Regions from separate parts of the Homo sapiens genome. Here region 1 is linked to region 2. A link means that fine-mapping ties the variant in region 2 to the expression of a gene that starts in the linked region. Tissue or cell type: monocytes. Region 2 holds a variant in brackets; the other region holds the start of a gene. All regions are shown on one strand. Distances are between the middles of the regions.

Evidence for each region. PIP is the estimated chance that this variant, and not a neighbour inherited with it, causes the effect.
Region 1: TMEM255A starts here. The variant in region 2 is fine-mapped to the expression of TMEM255A in monocytes (TOPMed, PIP above 0.99). The same link has a PIP of 0.9 or more in esophagus mucosa.

The regions. Positions count from the first base shown.
Region 1 is chrX:120,306,579-120,314,578 of GRCh38, forward strand. TMEM255A (transmembrane protein 255A) reads right to left here and starts at 4,883. Exons shown (of 9, transcript NM_001104544.3): 1 at 4,674-4,883. The coding sequence starts at 4,731. RefSeq lists an enhancer at 2,850-2,899.
Region 2 is chrX:120,265,629-120,273,979 of GRCh38, forward strand. TMEM255A (transmembrane protein 255A) reads right to left here. Exons shown (of 9, transcript NM_001104544.3): 8 at 2,616-2,759. It also overlaps the pseudogene PFDN4P3. Among named protein-coding and RNA genes, the nearest start is that of ZBTB33, 19 kb to the left of the region's middle. The variant C/T (reference allele first, on the strand shown) is at 4,247.

The DNA of each region.
Region 1 (8,000 bases), 41 kb after region 2:
TTGGATACACCACGGATATCTTTGTGATATGGAAGTGTCTCAACACCTTACCCAGAAAACATGTAACCTGACAGACTAAATTGGAGAAGTGTGTGTGCATGCATGGTCTTTTTAATTTTGGTTTGTTTGTTTGTTTGTTTCATTTGCCTGCTCCTTCCCCACCAGCTGGCCTTTAATCTTATTCACAGCTCTTGGGTCTTCTTTGCAAATATCACTCTAACTTTTAAAAGCGCAGGAAGAGCCAGGTCAGAAAAGTGACTCAGCAAACCACATAGTGTCATTTGAAAATCTTTTTTCCTGCTTTAGAACCTGAATTGAAAATTCAGTCACTTGAGCAACCCAGGCAAATATCCCACAGCCCCACAGGGGCCTTGACTCCAGATAGGATTTGCTTTGGATAAAATTCCTAAGAAAACTCTCTGATCACCAGGTCGAATATCTAATCTCTGTCCCCTCACGAGCGTCCTTCCCTGTCACCACTTATTTTATAAGGACCATAATTGTGTAACATGAAATTATTTCTAGTTGCACTTGGGGAATTGACTGTTTTAAGAAAACCCCCTCCCAGGGTGACTCGTTTTGAAAATGAAGAATCACCCCTCAATTTATCTTTAGTGTCAATTCGACTCAATAAAATTCACATCTACTTAGAGCAAGATATACCCATTTTCTGAAGGTGTGGCCCAGGCTCCTAAAAGGCAGTTTATTGTGTCTGCTTAGGACATTTTCCTGGTGGTTGTTTTATTTTAGAAGGGAGAAGTACAGCCGTGTTCTTATTCTGGTACAATTTGGGGCTTGCCTTAGATGTTTCTGTAAACACAGGACCATCTTATTCTGATTTTGTTTAGTAAAGTGACACGTAAAAAAACTCAGGCACCAGGAGGTACTTAAATAAAGCAGCAGGTATATGAAAATCATGCCTATTACGATTTATACCTAGTGTTTGATACCTAATAAACAATCGGTACTTGTTGAATAAACAAGAGGCAACATCTCAGAATTGTTTCCCTTTTAATCAAGAAGGATGTGGGAGGAATTGTGTGAATAAATATGGGCTAGTCTCATAGAATTGATTTTTTAATGTAGGGTACACCTGAGGGTTCCCTCAAATTAAAAGCCTTCTGGCTAACTAGTGTGAAAACTACAATATCTCTCACTACTCTGTCTCCTTGGCACCCAGTATATTTCTGCTTAAACAACAACCACCTCTGCAACCAACAGCAGTGAGAGAGTCTGAAATCTTTTCATTGGCCTTGCCTGCCCCTCCTCAGCAGCCTCCCTGCAGAACTACTGCAGCCCTCCCTCTCTGCAGTGCCCCACCTCCACCCCAGATTCCTGATGACCAGGATGCTTAGCTCTAGAAGCACCCAATTATTTGCTATCTCCACCCTTCCAAAAACAACCAGCTTTTCTCTCATCCGGGTATTCCCCCTGGTCAGAGCCCCCATCTGCATTGCGGTCTTTGAACCTGGGTGCCTCCCTTCCTTTGAAACATGCTCAAAATTCCCCTCCTCCAAAAAGTTTTTCTTGATCAAAATTAATCACTTATTCATGTCCCTAAATTCCCAGGTACCTTACTCAATAAGTATATTAATTGTAACTGGTACCATTACAATTGTAACCGTGGGTCTGGTCCACAACCCATATGATATCTGCCAGTCCCAGGATTGTGTATCTGAGGGAACCAAGATGTGAGTTGCTAGAAGGTAGGATGCTGTCTCTGTTACTTTGTTTTACCTTGCACACGTTCTTGATTATCCTCTCCCAAGAGAGTAGATAAGGTGTATAATCTTTATTGGGCACAGAAAAGTTGGGAACCCAGTATCCTGTCCTGTACACGGTGTTGTTGATGCCTGGCTAGTTCTCTGGGTTGATCTTTTGAACCGATTAGGATTTGCTTACCTGAGTCAGCTTTGCCACACAGGGTGGGTCCCCGGATATCCCAGCCTTGAGTATCCCTAGAAACAAGTGGCTGCCCACACAAGGGCCTCAAGACCCTGCCAATCTCCCAAACATTTCCTTAAAGGCGCTGAAATCCATCCCTCCCCACTTTAGACAGTTCTCTGAATGGAGAACATCCGAGGCCGCCCGCGAATTACAAATGTGTTATTTGGGAGGAAGGAATGCCCTACTGTAGTAGAGGTGCCTTTGCGCCTGGGGGCGGTGTTGCCAAAAGGGAGAAGGGGGTTGCTGGGAGGGGATGGGGGGACACTGGAGTCAAATTACCATCTTCTTAATTGCAAAGCGCCTGCTCCACTCTGAGCCTTGGACGCACTGCTCTATTCCCAGGCAGCCAGCAAGCGTAGAGTGCAGGCACCTTGGTGCAGTGTGTCTGCGTGTTTTAAATTTTATTGTTTTGGTTGCGGTTGTGTCTTGACAATAAAGGGAGTCCCCTCAGAAATGCTGCCCTTGGAGGCTGAAACACTAACCTACCTACCCACTGTCCTCTTCCCCCCACGCAAGGGAAGGTGGTGTTGCCAGAGCTAAGTGGGAGTAGCTCCTAAGTAGCCTAGACGCTGATTCAGGCCCGGACTGTGCGGGACCAGGGCCAGGGAACTCCGGGGAGACTCCCCTGTCCAAACTGTGGAAACCCAGCGTTAGCACTGGACTCAGGAATTTGCCAGTGCCGTCGGTCTGCGGACTTCAAAAAGTGGAATGCGTGGCGCCGGCTCCGCTTCTATCTGGGATTTATGATTCCTTTCCCGCAGTGTGGAGACTGGGCTGGGCGAAGCCCACTCAGCTGTTTGTTGCGCAGACCTTTCGAGAAACACAAGATCGCTGAGGGCCCCTGGGAGCCCAAGAAAGAAAGCTCTTCATCTTGTTCCCCAACCCACAGAGCAGTGCGCCAAGTAGCGACTCTTTAAGCCCTGGGCCACCAACCAGCCCACTCCCCGAAGGCAGACGGGCCCGGGGCGCTGTGGCTTGATTTGCAGGTGGTTAGGTGGTTGTCGTCCGCAGCGGGAATGGACGCTGCGGAACCCCAGCACTCTTCCACTCTGCCCTCCCTCGCGAAGCGCAACAGCTTGGCGTCGGGGAGCCAGGGCTGCGTTGTTGGCGCCACAGCTGGCCAAGGTAAGCAGTGCATTCCCACCTCTCTGTCTCTCTCTCTCTCGCTCTCGCTGTCGCTCTCTCTCGCTCTCGCGCTCTCTCTCTCTCCCTCTCCCTCTGTATGTGTGTGCGCGTGGTGTGTGTGTTGGAGAAAGAGTGCGCGCGCGCGAGCTGGGAGTAAGGGGGAGTCTGGTACTGCTGGGCTCGGGATTCGGACCAAGTCCTTGGCCTCATTTGTACCCCGTTGTAAATAACTACGCCCTTAAAAATGAAAAAGCAAATTCTTATACTGAATATGCAAAACCATTGAGGATACGGATCTTTCCACCATCCAGGAGATAACACTTTCTGGGGCCCCTCCGGTGAACGAGTTTTGTTGACACTGAGTCTTCTGCGGGCAGTAGGGAGATTATATAGGGGGTTCGATCTTCTCCCTGCCCCCTCCACTCGAGATGTTCCCGCAAATTCATCGGAGAAGACCTGAGCAGACTGATGGCAGGAACTGCGGGACAGAGGGATTTTGCAGAATGTAAAGTATGTTGGAAAGAGAGAATTCGATTTGATTGAAGTGTATCCGAGGCGAATTTTAAAAGATTAGGTGGGATCATGATTTTACAATCCCCTCCCGCTCTCCAGGGCTCCAAATTAATTTCTCCGCCCAGTGAAATCACAGGGCTTGGGAAGGTGCCTAACAGCTGAGGGGGACTGGGTTTGTTTTTTTTTGTAACTACCAAAAAGCAGCTTCGAGGGGCAGCCAAGTTGGTGCCCGAAGGTAGCTGTCCCCCAGTTTCTATAAGGAAAGGAGTCGAAGGGTGCCCCTCCCCCTCCATTCCGCCCTGCGAGGAAAAGCGCGACTTCAGAAGATGCGCGGGCTCGCGCTGGATGTTTCTTTCTCGCGCTCTCACTCCTGCCCCTGACTCCCTTTTCACACTCATGCACATTCCGTGCATTTGGAGCAGAGTAACAATCAAATTCAAAGAATGTTGATCCCGCCGCTGCAGAGGGCAGGGCTGGGCTGTCTTGAGTGATTCCTCAGGAATTCCCCTCCCCTCATCCCCCCCTTTCTTCTCACCCCCGCCCATCCCCCAGAGTTGCGCAACCCGCCCCCCCCCCCCAATCAGCGAGGTGCAAGTCAGGCCCCCACCCAACTGCATCTCTAAATTTCAGGGCAGCTTCAAGAGAGTTGGGAGGGGGCGAGGACCCTGCTTCTAATTGTCGTTAGTCGTGAGCTCTTAGAAGTGACCAGGACTTTGCAAAGAGGGAGTGTCGAATGGAAAGCGAAGGCGCAGGTTGCAGGGAAGTGTTTTGATCCTCAGATTGCTGGGATTTACCACCGACTGCAAGTCTGTAGACACACGCACACAAACAGGCACACACCCGCACTCCGGGGCAGAGATACTCCGACGCAAGCTTGGCGCTCCGATCTCCGCACGTCGCTCCCGCTGCAGCCAGGCCGCTCCCCTGGGACTCTGGTCCACCACCCAGACGCTGGGGCGCGAAGACCACCCCATCCATGCCCCGTTTCCCGCTCTCCGGCTTTTGGGGCAGCTGGGGCGTTCACAGTCCAGAGGCCAGGGCACTCAACCCCTGCTGCCGCCGCCCGAAGGAAGGGCCGCTAGACTTACCCATGGAATCGGGCAGGGACATGTCGCTGGACCGCTGCTGAGTCAGGGACTGATGCATGGTGAAAACTGCCCGGTTGCCCCAGTCCCCGAAGCTGCTTCAAGCGCCCCCGGCTCTGGGCGCCCCGCAGAGCATCCTACTCCGCGGTTGCCTCTCTCGGTCCTTCCGAGAGCTGAGAGACACTGCCTCTGGTTGCGAGCTGCAGCCCAAGTGCCGCCTCCCCCTCCCTTCCACTCTTCTCCCTCCCTCCTCTTCTGCCTCCCTCTGCTCTGGGAGGCAGCAGCATTGGCGGTCCGTGCAGCCGCGTGCGCTTGCGCAAGACCCCCCCCCTCCTCCCTCCCCCTCAGTCTCCCCATCCTAGTTATCCACCTCCCAGCCTTCCAAGCCAGACAGGGAGCAGTTTTAGCCCCTTGGGGCCAGGGCTGCGCAGAGAAAGAGGGGGAGGCTTCAGTATGAAGCCAACCAACCTTCTCTATAGTTGGACAGGGTCTTGGGTAATTATCCTGTTCTAGGATTTATAACTGGGGAGGGGGTCAGAGTCAGAGGTTCAGAGCTGAGGAACACACACACACACACACACACACACACACACACTTGAGCAGGTCTGGTCTTAGTGCTTCCAGAATGACATAATGGAGCTGGAGATGATCCAGAGAAGGGCCACTCTATAATCAAAGGGATGGTGTGTGTGGGGCGGGGGGAGGGTGGTGGCTGACATATGAAGATAGATTAAACAAACGCAGACTCTTTAGTCTAGAACGATGAAGGCTGGGAAGTGATGTGACCAGAGTGTATAAAATTATGCAGAGACGGAGAGAAGGAGCACAGCCTTATTCACCAGACCTGAGAATTCTAGAACCAACAGCCCCCAATCTTTAGCTAGAAAATTCAGCTAAAGTATAACTCTGCACCAGAACCCCAGTTTGTACTGTTCAAGTGCTTTTATAACAAGGATCTCATTTTATCATCATAGCAGCCATGCAAGGGAGGAAGAGGAGTTATCAATAACCCCATTATGCAGAGGAGGAAACTGAATCTCAGAGAAGGGAAGAAAATATCCTGTGCCCACTCAGCTAGTAAGTGGCAGAAGTGAGAGCTAGAACCTAGATCTGTTGGACTCCAAGGTGAGTGTTCTTGCTATGGCGACTGAAAAGAACTATTATTCTCTATAGCAAATGGAAAACCTAAGGAATTCATTAGCTCCAAAAGATGCAGCAAGATGAAAATGCAAGTAGCTTTGGAAAGAGTGAAAGTAAAGTCATGGCTGACAGATCCACTGTGGATTACTAAGGGAAACTGGGGATGAGGTGGGAATGTCATTGATCTTGGAAGACAGCCAAATCCTTCTCGAACCTATCCTTTTGGACCCCATTAGGATATTGGGCTTGAAGCACCTTGTGGTTGGACCAAAAGGTGGTTTGAATGTTCTCAAAACAACTGCAGATCAGGATGAGGCCTCCTTGGAGTGCCCCCAAGACATCTATCTGGTGGCCAGGGGAGGTGGAGGGTGAGGAAGCGGGTAACAGTGGACTCCACCTCCCTCTGGGAACAGCCCTGGAAGCCTAACATAGCTAAGAGAATATACCTATTTGGAGGTGCCCATACTGTCCCATTGAGGAGCTCCCAGGCTCTGCTTGCCAGGTCTCCTTCCAACCACCTCCTTCTGATGGTTGCTGCAATCCTTTCTCCATGTTCCCCGAAAAACCCAAACCAAATCAAGTATAAAACTATTCTAAGAGTCAATGGGATGAAGAAGAGTACTTGGCTCTTTCCAGATCTGCCTTGCTAATCTACTGTAAAGCTTTGTTTTTCTTATCCAGGAAATGGGACTGAAGGCCCTTGCCCTTTCCCATCTTCTGAAGGAAGAAAATATGTTTCTTGAAGATTAAAAAGGAAGCCCTTTGTAAAGAACTTGGGCACCCCAGGGGCCACGTTGAATGCTGTGTCAGGTATTATTAGCAACCCTACACTATACATGTGGTTTAGAAATCTGTGATATATGTCCTAGATAGAGACAAGATGCCTACTATTGTAGATGTGTGTGTCTTAAGCCTGCTTAGCTTGTGTCAGGGTCTCTATAAGCTCCACAAAGGCAGAGAGAAATCCTGTATTTATACTTCTGCAATGATTGTCTTTGAGTCCTGTTTACTTATCTCTTTCTCCTCTCATTCTAAATATCTCATACTTAATGTGGAGGACTCCTGCAACCAGCACTGATTTCTCAGGAGTGCTTGCTAATTAACATATTTCGTTTCTGTGAAAGTAGCCTGAAAGAAAAGAGGTTTTTATACAGGCTCTAAAGACTATATGACACCTTCTTTAGAGATTCTTGGCTCCCCTATAGCAATCACACAGCAAGAGATCCCTAAAGAAGCCAAATAGAAACTTGTTACCATGCTGGTTTTGATGGACAGATTGAGGGCTTTTCAATTCAGAGAGAAACACACTACCCACCAAATGATGCAGAGGGCATATGTAATTTGACCTTTATAATCCCAAAGACACAAACTAGTGAGGTACCTTTAATGGGAGTGAGGTTTGCTTTCTCAACATCTGTATTCCTGAATCCTGCTTGAAATTGAACATTATTTTATAAAGTACTAGAGGAGCTGGCTATTTAAAAGAACTGCATATGGTATGTTTCTTTTGTGCTGTCTCTTGGGGTGCCTTGTGGGACTTGGAGCACAGCACGCACTCAGTCAAGTTAAAAATGACTTTGAGACCAGTAGCAGTGACAATAGCAGCAGCTGCAGCAGCTTGGAGAGTAGTAGCAGTCTTCTCCCCAGAGATGGTGTATTTGTCTGGAGAGAGGATCGGGAAAAGGGGAGGGACTAGAATGGGAACTGGGGGGAAAACCCCCTACATTTTAACTAAGCCCAGTACATACACCTCTTTTCCTCCAAAAAAAAGTTTATTTTAACTCAAATTGAACAGGATGATTAAAAAGCAAGAGGCAATGTTTCCTGGGCTCCATTCTGATTTTCTTCATGTCAAAACACATGTGGAGTTTATACATAAATAGGTTTATAATAAAACTTACCAATAGGCAAGCCATCTAGATGAAGAAACAGGTCTTTCATGCAAGTGAAGGCTACTATAAAACTGCTTGGTTAGCTTTTGATAAAAAAAAGAAATTATTAAAATGCCTTAAAATAAATCCTTTTCATAGCAAGCTTAATCAAGCATACAGTGTTGCCCTAGGTTGCAAACTGCTTTATAGCATCAGGAAATGTTTACCAATGGGGCTGCAGCCTACTTCTCTCCATCTTCTTCAAACCAGTGATGAGCGCCCTCCCCAGAAGCCTTCAGACCAGTAGAAAAATGCCAGA
Region 2 (8,351 bases):
ATCAGTCAGCCCTAGATATAAATCCTTACTCTTTCACTTACCACCTCTGTGACTTTGGTGAAGTCACTTAATCTCTCCATGATTCAGTCATCTTATCTTAAAAATGGCAATTGCAAGAGTACTTCTCTTAAAGAGGTAAATGATTGAATGATGATATATGTAAAGCACTTAGCACAATGCTTAGTACATAGTAAGTACTCAGTGAATAGTAGCTGTTATTAAAAAGTAAGGGTGGGCCAGGCACGGTGGCTCATGCCTGTAATCCCAGCACTTTGGGAGGCCGAGGCGGGTGAATCACGAGGTCAGGAGTTTGAGACCAGCCTGGCCAACATGGTGAAACCCTGTCTCTACAAAAGATACAAAAAAAAAAAAAAAAATAGCCGGGCATGGTGGCACGCACCTGTAATCCCAGCTACTCGGGAGGCTGAGGCAGGAGAATCGCTTGACCCCAGGAGGTGGAGGTTGCAGTGAGCCAAGATTGTGCCATTGCACTCCAGCCTGAGCGACAGGGCAAGACTCTGTCTCAAAAAAAAAAAAAAAGGAGAGGCTTCTAACAATCCCCAAAGTCTCTGCTACAAGCCCATAGTATAGGTTTGGACTAGGTAGCTAAATCTGGATCCCTTTTCTGGGTTAGGTATGCTGTTTCCATAGCATTCTGGGTAATGTTTTCTTTACTTTTTTGTCCCCACTACTGTCCCCTGACCCCCCACCCCCAAGTCCCTAGACTAACGCAGGGACTGTCTCATTTAATTTCTATTTCCACAGCTCCTGGCTCAATGCGTGGCACATGGAACACAGAGTAAACATTGATTGAACTGAAACCAACAATCCAAGTCACCGTTGGCATTCTCAATCTTGCTTTCATTTCTGGGGTAGGATTTGAATGAGGAATGATGGCTCCATACCCAAAAGAGAGGTTTCCTATCTTATAATTTGTGGTAACCATCACCAGATGTATTATTGTCCCTACTTAAAGGGTTCATTATAAAGTGCAAATTCCTGAAATCAATGTAATTTACTTTGATATAAAAGTAGAGGAGGCCTCTTGGGCTAGACCCATGTGTGGCTCCTCTATTTAAGGATGACTTTTTATTATAGGGACCCCAAGAGAATGATGACCTTCCTTGTTTTAGCTTCAACATCCCTGCATTCTCTTGAAGAATTCCTTGTTGCCTCGGTCACTATTGAAATTATCTATGCCCTTCTTGAACATATTTTTGTTTTCCAGTCTATACCACCTATTTGGGTAACAAGTTACCTGAGTTGTCTACCTGTGTACACAGTAGGCTTTAGAACGAATTTTATCATTATATTTTCTAAGCTTTAACCCATTTATGCCTAGTGTCCCATTATTGGAACGCTAAGCTTGTGGGAGTTATTTATATCCTCCTGCTCAAGGTCATCGCCAAGGTCTGATTTTTCACAAAAAAATTTGCAACCTCTGGCATCAATGGGTTAATGGATACCTTTTTGAACTAGTACTATATTTTATAAAAGTGAACAAGTACATGTGCACACTATATGTATTATTATTGCATTATGGAGCCACAGACCTCTCTGAACGGTATCTAAACCAACCACAACAACACTTTATTCAACTTAATCAGATTTTTAAGTTTCAGTTATTTTGCCAAACTGAAGTTGAAATTAGGTTGCCCAAGGGCTTTGTATTGCCAAACTGGCTGGTTAGTTGGAAGTACCCCCAGATAGTTGTACTTTTATGTCCCCATGGAACATTCATGGTCTCTTGATCAATAGAAGCAAATTTATTATGAGTTTCCCTTCCTTAAAAGGTATTTCCTTTGGTCTCTAAAGTTTGAATTAACTAGATTTTAGTGTAACCTTGCTCTTCTATGGTCAAGGGTTTATAATCGTTATACATACCTAAAGGACCATTTCACTTGTTTGCCCAAAGTGTCTAGTTCAGTGTTCTGCATGCAATGAATTCCTTTTAAGTAAGTGCCTTTTTTGGGTCTGGTTTTCTACTAGTAGTCACAGTTCAAAAGGAAAAGGGGAAAGTGCAAATTTGTTAACACTATTTCTGACTTACGTGATAACAGGGCAAAAGGGGGAGGGGTGTTATAAAAATACTCTGTGTATTGCTCTGTGTAGTCCTAGTTAGGAGGCCTGGAGAAAAAGAATGGGACTTCTTCCTCATTACAGGTTTGATTCAAACCCTTGTGTGGCTCAGAATGCCCTTGTGTTAAGGAGCAGGATTAGGCCTCTCCCCATATCAGGGGAATGGAAAAAGCCACTGTTGCACAGGGGTCCATGGTAGTGTACTAATGAGCTGCCATTTCCCAACTAGCTTATCTTCTCCTTGGTGTAGTTTAAGGCAATTTGGGATACCTTGATCCTACCTCCCTCTCTCCCTTTTTCTTCCATCTCTCTGTTTCTTCTCTTGCGCAGCTTCCACCCGCCCATCTCTGCCATCGTTGCCTGCCTACATAGTCCTTAAGCTGGCAACCACAGGCTGCTGGCCATTAGGGAGATGCATGGCTACCTCATACATATGCAGACAATGGAAAGGTTCCATAATTGAATTTAGGGAGAGAACAAGAGAGCATGAGTGAGAACAAGGGTAATACAGAGTTCTTTTTTCTCCCAAAACATACCTGAAAGTCATAAGCAGAATATGGTGGCAGGTGAGGAGGGCTATGGTAGTAGGTATTGTAGGATGCCACTTGGGGATGAGCATAGTAAGAAACTGTTGGATGGGTATTTTCAACAGAACAGTTCAGTGCTGGGAGAGTTGGGTTCTGTAGAAAAACACAAATTAGAAACAACATAAACAGTCATCACTAGGAGAATGGTTAAATAAACTTAGTACATCTATACTATGGAATACCATGCAGCTATTGATAAACAATGATGTGGACCTATTTAGAGAAGGTTGTCCAGGATATATTTTTATGTTTTAAAAGCCATTATGTTACATTAATATAACATGATCCCAATTTATGTTTTAAAAAAAGACCCCCAAAATTATACATGTATGTATGTTTGTAAATGCAAAGAAATTAACCTGGAAGGATGCATAGCAAACTATTAACTGTGGTTTATCTCTGGGGAGCAGAGTAGAATTAGGAGGTATATAGGGATTCTTAACTTTCTACTATATATGTCAAAATGTTTACAACTAATTTGTATTGTGTCATTTTCCCCAAACTTTTTAACTTGAAAAATTTAAACCTATAGAAAAGTTGAAATCATTTGTGTGATTTTTAAAAACAAGAATTAAAAAGAAAAAATAAGACTCAAAATGCAAAACATCAAATAGAGAAGGCCGAACCAGCTAGTGTTCTTGCTGTGACAGAGTGTGTTCAATCACAAAGAATTTGTAAAAGTTGTAAGGATTCTTAGAGATCCCAACCTTGCTAAGGGGGTCTCCTGAAGACATGAAGGGTATTGATTTCTCATCAGCCCTGTAGAGTAGAGGCAAAATCCTAGCAGTGCACAGAAGCCATGAAAGACCAAGAAAAATATATTGATCCCCCCACCTTTTTTTTTTTTGCAAATAAAACGATGCAGACATAATTTTATATCCTTTTCACAACATGGTGGTGTGTGTAGCCCTTCAAGGGTTAAAGCTAACCTTGTCCAGAATGGAGGCCCTGCTCTCATCAGAGCCAAAGCACTGCTAAAGGAAGTTACCACTACTCATTAGTTCCCAAGTAGGACTGTGCTTTGTGCCACATGGATCAAGGTGTGGGGTAAATGATTTTTCCATCTTCTATGTCATTGATACCTCCCCCATTCATGTGTATAATTGAGAGCTGTCTGAAAAATCAATGTGTCTTCCTTTTGGAACATAGCTACAGCACATTAACAGAGAAGCAGAAGCTTCCTCTCAAGTGATGAAAATGTGTAGGCAGGCTTTGGCAGTCACAAAGGCAACCATGTTAGGGTGTTGGCAGGGGGAAACTCCCTTCCAGCAAGTTTCAACACAGTTCTGTTGCTCTCTTCCTTGGAGTGGGTTACTGTTTACATCTCTAGGAGGTTTGAAGAGCTACAAACCTCAGTCATAATACAGCTCACAGACAGCCAGATAAATGTTTGTCAGCCTCTTTAATGTGTGAAAGAGGGCTGAGATCTTGACCATTCCAAGGGCTGGCTTGCTTTACATTTACTCAGAAATGCCCTTACCTCTCCCCCAGAATTCTTTAAAGAAATTCTGTCTCTGGGGAAGTACCAGAAATCATGTTCCCTTGGCATACTGTCAATTAAAAACACACCCTCCAGCTCT[C/T]GCAAAATGAAACCAGCTCTTCTATCTAAATAAATTAAGCCTAACTGTGGAGAAACAATCATACAATGTAAACTATATAAAAGTTTTTGTGTGTTCAGCAAGGCCAAGGGTCTAGACAATATTTGAAAGGAAGTTGACTATTTAGAGAAGGCAGCACAGAAGAAACATGAGAGTAAGATTAAATGGGTATAGGAAAGTCTCTGAAGAGAAGACAGTCAGGGGTAGAGGATATAGAGAAAATGGACAAGCCAGCAAGAGAAGGAAGAAGAGGAAATGGGGAATGGAGTGAAGACTTAGTCAGGGATGGGGCAAAAGAGATGGGCCAAAATAGTGGTCTGGTTATATTTTAAATCAATAAATCTGATTTTACAATAAATTTGGGCCCTGTTTCTATTTGTGTGCACGTATAGGAGTGTGTGTTTGTGTGTGTGTGTGTGTATGTGTATTTCTGTTAGAATTCTGGGGCTTACGTTGTGAGACGCCCGCCCTGCCCCCCCATTATTGATCAGTAGCATTCCGAGCTCCAGTAACACAAAAGGTTACTAGGTAGCACAGCAAATGGTGAAAGCAATCTTGCCTGGACAAAACTGAGTCTATTCTGAGACAATGATTGTGGACTTTGGAAAGAATGCTACTTTTTTTCCCTCTCCAGTTTACTCTAAACCAGCGATACCAATTAGGAGAAAATGGAAAGATATATTCACTTTTTAAAAATTCATCTCAAATCCTCATATCTTTGGTCAACAAGCACTTCTTCAAACATTTCTTTAAGATCTTTTTCACCAAGCACCTCTTGTCAGGGTTCCTTTCAGGATCCCACAACTTTGGAAATGGTGGTTCCTAGCTGATTCCATTGAAGACTGCCAGCTCACAGCCCTCGGCTCCTGTCCTCACTCTCTGCAAACGGCTTTCATCAGCCAGCACCCCCGGGCCTCCCTGCAGACCCCGGGGACTCTACTCAGGGAGAGGCACATCACAAGTCACCAACCACACTTGGATGTAGGCCAAGGATTGTACTTAGGCTCACCTGAATGATGTTCCTGGACTTTTTACACCATGGTCTTATTTTAATAGAGTGATCTAGGCAATGATTCCTCCTTGGTATCCTTATCTGTGCCCCCACTGGTTCTCTAATCTCATGAATCAAAGATCTTCTCCCCAGATCTTTGCTTTCATTTTTTTTCTGCCCTGGTCCTTGATAGAGTTCCCGGGATTCACATTTGATAATGCTCGGTACTTCCCTTGCTCTCCTTCCGTACTGTCAAAGAAGCTCCCAACAGGTGGAAACAACTTGCTTTTAATTTTTTAATTAAATCAACTAAACAAAGGAGGTAATATATGTTAAAACACTCATAGAACCAGAAAGGGCTACCCAAATGTTAGTCAGGGGCAGCTGGGATGAAATAGAAAGAGCAAAGGCTCTGGCATTTGGCAAATCTGGGCTCCAGTCCCAGTTCTGCTACTCAGCTCTGGGCAAGTCACTTGACCCCTCTTGGCCTGTTTCCTCACCTGTTAAACAGAGACAGTAATACCTACCTCACAAAGTAGTAATAGTGAAGATTAACTGTGCAAAAGCACTTTGCAGAGGGTTAGGGGCCATTATTGCCGCTATCAAGACAGACCATCAGCAAACCCATTTTTTCCTCAGGAGATCAAAGATAACAGTGAAATTAAGAACGCAGAAACAAATCTATATATCTGCAGTTAATTGATTTTTGACAAGGTTGCTAGGATCATAAAGTAGGGAAAGAGCAGTGTCTTCAACAGATGTGCTGGGAAAACTGGATATCCACATGAAAAAGAATGAAACTGAGCCCCTAACTTATACTAGATATAAAAATTAAATCAAAATGTTTCAAAGCCCTAAATGTAACAGCTAAAACTATAAAATTCTTAGGCAAAAATGTGGAAATCATGACCTTGAGCTTGGCAATAGATTCTTAGATATAACACTAAAAGCACAAGCAACAAAAGAAAAGATAGATAAATGACACTTCATCAAAATTAAAAACTTTTGTGCTTCAAAGGCCATTATCAAGAAAGTGAAAAGACAACTCACAGCATGGGAGGAAGTACTTGCAAATCACATATTTGATAATGCTCTAGTATCCGCTATTTATAAAGAACTCTTACAACTCAACAACAACAAAACAGATTTAAAAATGGGCAGGATTCTTGGTCAGTGGCCAGGTCTCAGCTATAGCAGGGGAGTGGAGGGTGTGGGATGCTGGGGGTGCCCAGCTCTGAAGCTCAGTGTGGGGCCCAAGACTGAGGCCCCCAGCCCTTACAGCTGCTCTGTGGGGAGCCCTGTCTGCACCTAGGGCCCTGAGCATTTGCTTAGTCACCTGGCTTGTTGAGGCAGGGGGTCCCCAGGCCGGAATCCATGGAGGGCTCTGGGCACCTCTCTCAGTACTGAGGGTGCCTCTGGGGAGCATGAGGACCCTGCAGCCCAGGCCTTGTCCTTAGGGTATGGGAAACTGAAGGTCCCATTGACTGAGGTTGGCTTTTACGCACTTGATGCACTGATACGGTTTGGATTTGTGTCCCCACCCAAGTCTCCTCTTGAACTGTAATCCCTGTAATCCCCAGGTGTTGAGGGAGAGACCTGGTGGGAGGTGATTGAATCGTGGGGGTGGTTCCTCCATGCTGCTGTTCTGATGATAGTGAATGAGTTCTCACGAGATCTGATGCTTTTATAAGGGGCTCTTCCCCCTTTGCTTCCTTCACATGCACTCTCACCTGTTGCCATGTAAGATGTGCCTGCTTCTCCTTCTGCCATGATTGTAAGTTTCCTGAGGCCTTCTCAGTCATGCAGAGCTGAGTCAATTAAACCTCTCTTCTTTATAAATTACCCAGTCTTGGGCTATTTTTTTTTTTTTTTTTTTGAGACGCAGTCTCACTCTATTGCCCAGGCTGGAGTGCAATGGCACGATCTCGGCTCACTGCAACCTCCACCTCCCAGGTTCAAGTGATTCTCCTGCCTCAGCCTCCCGAGTAGCTGGGATTACAGGCATGCACCACCATGCCCGGCTAATTTTTGTATTTTTAGTAGAGACAGCGTTTCACCATGTTGGCCAGGCTAGTTTCAAACTCCTGACCTCGTGATCTGCCCACCTCGGCCTCCTAAAGGGCTGGGATTACAGGTGTGAGCCACTGCACCCGGCCGGGCAGTTCTTTATAGCAGTGTGAGAATGGACTAATACATGCACTTTACCTGGGTTATCACATCAGCCCTCACAAGTCCACAGGTAGGTGCTACTAGTGCTGTTGTTTACAGGCTGCAGAAAATTTCAACGCTACTTTTGAAGATCAACATTAGGTAAACAAATTTGCAAGGAATATGAGTAGAATCACAGAGCTGAAGGAAGAAACAGAAGTTAAAAGGAAACAACTCCACAATTTAGAAGTTGTTTGCAATGACATCATGCTTGCAGATGATGACTGCTTAATGATACCTTATCAAATTGGTGATGTTTTCATTAGCCATTCTCAAGATGAAACACAAGAAATGTTAGAAGAAGCAAAGAAAAATTGGTAAGAAGAAACTGATGCCTTAGAATCCAGAGTGGTATCAATTCAGTGAGTGTTAGTAGATTTGAAACTTCAGTTATATACAAAATTTGGGGGTAACATAAACCTTAAAGCTAATGAAAATTAAACATTTTATAATACTTTAAAATTTTGTTTAACAATCTTGAATATTGTTTGGAAAATAAAAAAATCTGCAAAAACTTGATAGATATTTCTCCAAAGAAGATATACATACAAATTGCACACAAACATATAAAAAGATGCCCAACATCACTGGTCAGCAGGGAAGTACAAATCAAAACCACAACAAGATACCACTTTGTGCCCACTAGAATGTTTATAATTTTTTTTGAGAAAGTGTTGGTGAGGATGTGGAGAAATTGGAACCCTCACACACTGCAGGTAGGAACGTAAAATGACACAGCTGCTGTGGAAAACAGTTTGGCAGCTCCTCAAAAAGTTAAACATAGAATTACCAAATGACCCAGCAATTCCACCCATAGGTGGAAAAAGAATTGGAAGCAGGTAATCAAACAAGTACTTGTAAGTGATTGTTCATGAAGGCACTATTCTC